Linked DNA regions of Homo sapiens: region 2 is linked to region 1. The links come from fine-mapping of genetic effects on gene expression. Tissue or cell type: lung. Region 1 holds a variant in brackets; the other region holds the start of a gene. All regions are shown on one strand. Distances are from middle to middle.

Evidence for each region.
Region 2: it holds the start of FREM1, and the variant in region 1 is fine-mapped to the expression of FREM1 in lung (TOPMed, PIP 0.93).

Annotation. Positions count from the first base shown.
Region 1 is chr9:14,881,680-14,886,074 of GRCh38, reverse strand. The region is part of intron 1 of FREM1 (FRAS1 related extracellular matrix 1); the gene reads left to right. Among named protein-coding and RNA genes, the nearest start is that of FREM1, 27 kb to the left of the region's middle. The variant T/C (reference allele first, on the strand shown) is at 1,839.
Region 2 is chr9:14,907,659-14,912,053 of GRCh38, reverse strand. It overlaps FREM1 (FRAS1 related extracellular matrix 1), which reads left to right and starts at 1,626. Exons shown (of 37, transcript NM_001379081.2): 1 at 1,626-2,140. RefSeq lists enhancers at 2,861-3,362, 4,312-4,395.

The DNA.
Region 1 (4,395 bases):
GTAAGACCTAAAGTTGTGAAAAAGTTGTTCTCATAGAAGTAGAGAGTAGAAGGTGGTTACCAGGGGCTGGGGAGGAGGGAGGACTGGGGAGGTGCTGATCAAAGGATACAAAATTTCAGTTAGTCCAAAGGAAGGAGATGTATTGTACAACATGACTACTATAGTTAACAGCATTGTATTGTATAGTTGAAAATTGCTAAGAGAGTAGATTTTAAATGTTCTCCTCATAAAAAGAAGATATGTAAGGTAATAGATATGTTAGTTATTTGATTTAGCTATTTCACATTGTATATGTATATCAAAACATCATGACACAACAGTGTATGTATATATTGCAAAACAGCTAAATTAAGTCATTAACCTGGTGGCTCACACCTGTAATCCCAGAACTTTGGGAGGCTAAGATGGAAGAATAGCTTGAGACCAGGAGTTCAAGACCAGCCTGGGCAACATTGTGAGACTCCCATCCCTATGAAAATTAAAAAACAATTAGCCAGATGTGGTGGTGCATGCCTGTAGTCCCAGGTACCTGGGAGGCTGGAGCTGAGGCTTGCTTGAGCCCAGGAATTGGAGGCTGCAGTCAGCTATCATCGCACCACTGCATGCTAGCCTGGGCGACAGGGTGAAACCCCTGTCTCTAAAACAAACAAAAATCATGTTGTACATCATAAATATACACAATTTTATTTTTCAATTAAAAATAAGTAAAAACGAACAATAAATAATTGTGTGAGTCAAGGGGTAATAACTGCAAGCCTGGGGAAGACAAAAATGTTCCATTGCTTATGTCATCTTTAGTCAAATGGTGATAACTACCTAGATCACTAATGAGAAGAGTTTTGGGCCACATATGAATTCTGCAAAAAGCAAAGAAAATAAAAAGCAATGATGGGGAGGCCGAGGCGGGTGGATCACGAGCTCAGGAGATCGAGACCATTCTGGCTAACACGGTGAAACCCCATCTCTAGTAAAAATACAAAAAATTAGCCGGGCGCGGTGGCGGGCAGCTGTAGTCCCAGCCACTCGGGGGGCTGAGGCAGGAGAATGGCGTGAACCCGGGAGGCGGAGCTTGCAGTGAGCCGAGATCGCACCACTGCACTCCAGCCTGGGCGACAGAGCGAGACTCCGTCTCAAAAAAAAAAAAAAAAAAAAAAAAAAAGCTATGATGAATTATTGATATCTTGATAACTATGCTGGGCATAGGAGGGGGAAGGCACTTGCCTTGTGTTGGGTAGCTACCATTGCAAAATTCCAGAGAGGAAGAATAGTAAATATTATTTTCATCAAGGCACGTCATTACCATTGACCGTTAAGAATTTCCATTGCATTGAGAGCTGTACAGCTGAGATCCATTTTTTTTCTTGTTGTGCACAGATTATCTCAAATTAGTGACAGGAGTATCATGTTTATATCAACATGAAGAATACATGCTCATATAGTTAAGCTGAATGTGTAATTATGAAATAAATACTAGCTCACATTTCCCCTCCACCAATTATGTTACTAAATTATTTTCTTCTGTTCAAAAAATTTCCCAAAAAGTTTGGTTGAAGAAATCTTTATGAATTTTCATAAGAATTCAAAACAGCGTGTTTTTTCACATTTCAGAAAGAATTTTCACACAGCTTTATTGGCGTTTATTGGCTTATACAGATATACTGTACTTAGAATACATGATTACCATGTAAAGAAAAAAGGCAATGGTGGGAAAATGGTCAGGGAGAGCAGAACTGATTTGCAGTCATGTCAGGAGGATTTCGAAATGTTAAGAAACAGCTGAGCCACACAAGCAAGCCAAGACAGGATTTGTTTCTTGTTTTTTTTCTTTTTTTCTTTTT[T/C]CTTTTTTGAGATGGAGTCTCGCTCTGTCGCCCAGGCTGGAGTGCAGTGGCGCGATCTTGGCTCACTGCAACCTCCGCCTCCCAAGTTCAAGAGATTCTCCTGCCTCAGCCTCCCAAGTAGCTGGGAATATGGGCACCCACCACCACGCCCGGCTGATTTTTGTATTTTTAGTAGAGGCAGGGTTTCGCCGTGTTAGTCAGGCTGGGCTCGAACTCCTGACCTCAGGTGATCCGCCTGCCTGGGCCTCCCAAAGCGCCAGGATTTGTTTCAAGGATTTGAATCAAGTCCGAGGTGGCTAAAAGTCAGTTTACAAGCTCCCTTGGGGAATATGGCCAGGTGCCCTTTCTACTTCCACTTCTAGCTGCCCCCAATAATTCTGCCGACCCTGAGGGTGCCCATACTAGCAATCAGAGCAAGCTGTGGACAGATGGATTCTGAGGCTCTGACTTAGCCCTATGCTGGGACTAAGAAAATAAAATTCTCAAGATGTGCTAGGCTTCCCATTAGAGTGTTGTTTTTCATGTAGAAGTTGGCTGTCACTGGACATAGTAATTTTGTGTCAGAGACAAGACAGTTATTACCGTCTCATTTTGAGGTGTTAAAAGACCCATCATCACTGTGAAATCTTGTTTGCTTCAGAATTTTGCTTTGCTTTGCTGTTGTTCTGTTTTTCTTCTGGCCCTTTCTCGGTCTGCTCGTCTGAATTCTTTTCTCTTTCCCCTCCCATGCCACCTTCTTGAAGCCAAAAATAAGAGCAGTATTTTCCATGGAATGTCCACATACTTGGTGTTTCCCAACACCAAGAGAAAAATACAAGAGCAAAATTAGAATGCAAATAAAACCAAACAAAGCATACCCTTTTTGATCTTTATTGCTTCTAATTCTGCAGCCTTCAGTCTAGGCTCAGTTGATTGAAGGATGAGTTTTGTTTGATTTTGAATTTGGAAATTGTTACTCTTGTACTTTTCCCCCCTCCTAACTGTGTTGCTTCAGGTTGTTTTTGAAATATCAAAATTTAGTTTTTTAATATGTATTCTGTTGTAAGACTATGAGAAAGAAAAAATTAGAATGTAAATAAAACAGACTCTATTTGACATTTATTGAACCTAATTTTGCCACCTTGCCACCTTCATCCAGGCCCAATTCCTTCTACTCTGTTTTTCCTGAGAAAGCTTTACTTTCTTGTCTCTTTGATATATTTTGTAATAATAATGTTAACATTTGTATGGGGGTTTGTAATTAAGAAAATATTTCCACATAGATTATTGGTCTGACAGGGGAACTTTGGAGGCAAGATGGGTGATTCCTTTTTTTTTTTTTTTTGAGATGGAGTCTCGCTCTGCTGCCCTGGCTGGAGTGCAGTGGCATGATCTCAGCTCATTGCAACCTCTGCCTCCCAGGTTCAGGCGATTCTCCTGCTTCAGCCTCCCATTTTTGAAAGAGGAAAGTATGTTCATAAAAATCAGGATTAGAATCCATGGCCAGGTGCAGTGGTTCACACCTGTAATCCCAGCACTTTGGGAGCTGAGGCGGGCAGATCACTTGAGGTCAGGAGTTTGAGACCAGCCTGGCCAACATGGTGAAACCCCATCTCTACTAAAAATAATACAAAAATTAGCCAGGCGTAGTGGCGGGCACCTGTAATCCCAGCTGCTAGGGAGGCTGAGGCAGGAGAATTGCTTGAACCCAGGAGGTTGCAGTAAGCCAAGGCTGTGCTACTGCACTGCAGCCTGGGTGACAGAACAAGAATCCATCTCAAAAAAAAAAAAAAGATAAGAAGAAAATTAAAAAAATAATAATCGGGATTAGAATCCAGATATTCAAAATTCAAGTCTATTCTTTCAACAGCATTGTGGTGCAGGGAGCCATAAGAATAGATATCTCCTCTCTTCTCTTGTCTCTTCCTGGCAGATAAACATTAGGATCTTGGACTTTGACCTTATCTCTCAGTTAAGGGTTTACTATGATATAATTAGAGAATGAACTATTGTCCCATATGCTGTTAGGTAGGAAGTTAAATCTTTAGCTGATTAGTGACTAAACAAAATTAATACAAAAACTTGAAGAAGAAGTGATTATTAAAGGTATAGTTAAGTTCAGTCATGAGTCACACACACACACACAAAATAATAACAGTGAGTTAAATAGGAAAGAAGTTTACATTCTCTCCTGTGTAAAATTCTGGATGAATGGACTGGTATGGTGGTTCTGCTTTGCAAATGGCCCAGAGACCCAGGGTCCTTCTAGCTCACAGCTCCACCAACCTATGCCATAGCCTCATTTTTTCATGTGCAAGGCAGCACCTTCCATCTTGGCAACAAGATGGAGGGAAGCATAAAGAAAAAGGGAGAAGAGGCACACCGTAACTACCTCTTAAAGGAGGTTTCTCAGAGACACCATGTGACTGCTCTTCTTCAATTCCATTGGCCAGAATCTGATCACATAGCCGCAGATAGCTACAAGAGAGACTGTGAAATATAGTCTTTGTTCTGGGTGACTATATACCTAGTTAAAATTTTTATTTCTATGGAGGAAGGTGAGGTTGGATGTTGTGGG
Region 2 (4,395 bases), 26 kb before region 1:
TAAACTAATCTATAAACCTTATTAGTTTCTAGACTAATCTATAAACCTTATTTAGATGTTAGAATAAGCATGTTGATGCAACCGTTTGTACATAGTATACAATTCCTTTGTCAAATGGAATCCGAGTCTCAACTAACAGCTTCTAAAACCATCTTCATTTCTTTGCAGGTAAGATATTCACAACCTGGGCAATTTTGAAAATCAGTTGGGGAATAAAATTGTCTATTATGCTGTGTTTCTTAACTGTCATTATTAAGGCTTTATTTCTTGCCTTTTCAGGATTAATATATGACTCACACATTGTCACTATATTTATTTAATAATAACTGTGTTTAGTAAATAATATCTGTTCACTTATAAAGAGCTTAGTGATTCTTAACTTTCACCTACTTATTCTCAGAGCAAATAAAATGAATCAAGAAATTCTTGAAGATTTGAAATCTCCGATGACTTTGAGTAAGTGTATATGCACCATTCATTGCTAAAGTAACCACAAAGCATGTTTTTAAAATACATAATTTTTTTCTCCCTTCTTATGCATTCTTTTCTTCTTTACATTTTTCTCTTTTCTTTCTTCCTTCCTCATGTAATTTTCTTCTCCTTTTTCATTTTCCTCTCTCTTTTCCTTATGGCTTCCAAAGAAAGGCATATGGTGTTGTGACCTTGTTACGGGAAACCACATCTAGGTTGAATTGGATTCACAGTGTTCTATATTTTTGGCAAAGGTTTAGGATAGCCAGACATGTCTTAATATAAACAGTTCCCCCAAAGTGAGTTAATACTTCAAATTCTCTCTTTATGGTTAATTTAGAAGGCCAGATGGTAGGCCATTATCTTTTTTTTTCCTGGTGGGAATAAAATACAGGAAAGCATTTTATTAAACAGTTGTTAAGGATTAAGACTTTCACAGACCACTGAATACTGACAAGTTAACTATGTGAATCTCTGTTGAGAGGACAGTTCTTGGCCAGTGATATATCTGCATTATTGGGATCACGCACTATATGCAAATGGATCAGATTAATGGGATTTTTATGGGTTTTCGAAAAGAGCCAGACACACAAAAAGCCTTACAAATGGAAGAACTAAGGTGGTACTTAAAAACAGCACCTTAGGATCTAGTTCCATCCTATCTTTTCCCTTAAATGCCATGACAAAAGTTAAAACGGGCCCTGTCCCTTCTGAATGCTGGGCTTCTCATCTAAATTTAAATAAAAACCTTTGAAGATGGGAATGTGTTGGAAGAAAAGAAGGGCAGAAAAAAAGTGTGTTGGAAGAGTCTGTGTGAGTATGTACATGTGTGGGTGTGGGCATGTGCGGCCTGTGCGTATGTGTGTGCCCCCGTGTGTGTGTGGAGCATGCGTGAGAATGCATGCACATGTGTGGGGTGGGTCACTATGTGTGCATGCATGTGAAGGCATTTGCCTGTGTATGTGTCTGTGTGTGGTGATTGTGTGTCTATCGTGTTTGTATGTGTGCCTGTGTGTGTACCTCTGTGAGTGGGTGTGTCTGTATGTGACTGTGTGCCCATTTGTGAATGTGTGTGTGCCTGTGTCTGAGTGTGTGTGTGCCTGTGTGCTGCAGGCGGGAGAGGCTGCTCTGGCTCGGCGAGTGGCGGAGCAGTTAGTACAAAACTAGTAGTGAGAAAGGAAGCTGGGAAGAGACTGGGAAGAGGCAACCGACCTCATTAACAAAAGCTCAGTTTTGTCCCTGCGGACCCAACCAGCAGAAGGCACGGGGCTAGCGGTGGCTGTCCGCCAGGGAGGTCGGGCTCTGTGTAAACAGTAGAAGGCATCTTTATCATGCCCTTCTCACAGGGAGTCCTGAGGCTTGGCGCTCAGGAAGTTTGCAAAGCTGCAGCAGCTGCCTTGGAGAAGACCAGCAAAGAAAGTGGAGTGTGTATGTGAACTTCAATTCTGTATTTTCTGTGAGGTGGGTTAATGGATTTTTAGTAAAAAGAAATCTCAAACACAGCTGACCTGAAAGACTGGAATTTCAGCTCTCTTCCTTCCCGGGGTTCTTTTTCCTCCCCCTTCCTCTCAAAGCCCTTTAAACCAGATTGCTGTGTCAGTGACTCTTATCCTGCCCGCCAGTTCCAAGGGTTTCTAACTTTTTGTCTTGGAAAGGAAAACCACTACCTGTAAGTATCTGTTTTATGTGTTTCTTTTCATTGTGACTGTGAATGTTCTGTTAGCAGAATGCCCCAGAGATTGTTTGTGTGATATCATTAATGCCAAGTAACAATGCAAAGCATCTGCAAGAGTAGGCTTGCAAAAGTTTAACTCTCCTGTTAACTCAGAAGATGGCAACTTGCAGTGTTAACAAACCAAATGCCAAAACTGAGATTCTTTTTATTACGTGACACAAATTTCTAACTCTTCTCAGTCCATCCGTGCTGGCACTTGCCAATGAAATAACCATTTTTTAACTGTGTAATTGTTTCCTCTGAAATTAGAATGTTTCTTCTCAGCTAAATGAAATGGCAAAGGGAAAAGACACAAAAATGAACAGAACAGATAATATCCTCATGGTACAAACATAGAGAAATTTGGATGAGATAATGTCTGGATACCTTTGCTTAAGTTTAGTTATATTTGGAGACATATTTTCAAAAACATGATTTCTGTTTCATTGTGGGGAAGAGAGATAGTGCTGGGGAGGCAAAGAAATGGCCTTGTTCTGAAGTTTTTGGACTGATTTTTAGGCTCTCTCTGCTCAGTACTGAGATTTGGTCCAGAGACTTTGGTGCTGTTGTAAAGAGTTTCTTTTCATTTTATTTTGAAATCCAGGAAACAATTTTTGGCTTATGGAAATTGTTTATTGTTTTTAAGGTATTTAATTTTAGTTTCTGATTTTTTTTTAAACTATTGCACCCAGTCTTGTTGCTTGGTGTGCATTACAAAGCTTAAAAAGAGCATTTCTGGGAGCCAATTGGTGTTTATAGCCTGGGAATCTTACTGGAGAGATTAACCTCTGTGGTGCTGCTTCACAGAACAGAGCTAGTGATTCGAATGCTCTTCAGGTTTCTGCTCTGGAAAACTGACACCCGCTGTTCCTGACTCTAGGTAAAGCTTGAAGAGCTGTGCCTCAGCCCCCTGCTTACATTTGATAAAGGTGCCTTCAGTGCAGCTCTAGGAAACTTTGCTGTTTCTCTCCATCAGGCATTCTCAAAACTGACTGTGTGTAAGAACCCCCATTTGCTTGGTGAAAGGCAGGTTCTCAGTTCCCAGGCCCAAAGGATTTTAGACCTGGAGTGGTGCCAGGAATCTTCCCAGGTGATTCTGAAGCAGGTGGGTCACACTTGGGTAAACATTGCTCTACATTGTCCTTGACATGAAATTCTTGTCATGTACTTGGTTAATATTAAACCTTATATCTAAATAAGAAACCTGAGTTTGAGCTGTTGTTGAGCATAACTTAATGTGCAACATGGTTTTGCATGCTTGGCTGGCAAACCAGGGCTTTTTAATCAGTTTTCCACCAACCTCATCTTTTTTTTTTCTTGCTTCCCTTTTCATCTCTGCCTTTTCATTCCCACGAGGGAAAAAAGGAGTTGGGCAAAGGGACCTGACTACCATGTTCCCTGCTTTCACATGTTGGGCTATATGGCCTGATCTGCCCCCGCATGGCTAAGCAATGTTTGTTTTGGAAACTTTAAACCCAGGACTGTTCTTAATTCTTTCCCAGCCTCCTGGGGCTGCTGGGCTGTAGGGGTTGGGCGAGGCTGAGTTTGGGTAAACTGAGCTTGATTTCATGGAATGGTTCAGGAGCCTCATTCCTAGAAAATGATTTTTGGATTGGACCATCCCACAGGGATGAGAAGAAACAGAAAATGATTCTTCCATGGTGTTAAAATTCTCATTTCACAATATGTGAAAGTCAGAGCTCAGCTTCCATCCCCATCCTTGCATTTTCTGGCGTTTAATATTTATATTAAAAAGAAAACTGGACATGGCCATCAGAGCCCCTTGCTTTCTTTTCTTTCCTCATTCCAAACATTTAGGTGCACCTGCTACATGCCAGGCTCTGTGATAGTTTTTAAGGATTTCAGAATGCCCACTGGGGATGGCATGCACAGGCAGGGTCCTTGTCCTCATGGTGTTTCAAATCTTAGTTGTTGCTAACCAGCCTTGGAAGAGCCATCTAACCCCTCAAAGCTTCACTTCCTCATCAGTAAAATAAGTTGAATTAAATGAGTTTTGGTATCTTCCTAGCTCTGATATTCTGACATTGATGGATATGACTCAGTCTTCTAAACACAGATATGGGCTATGAGAGCTTTTCAGCATTTACTCTGAGAATAGGCCTAAAGATTTCGCTAATTGCTTTTCTTCAAAAATTTTCAGATGTATTTTTTTCTCTCACAAAGCACCATGACCACAGGAATATTGAGTT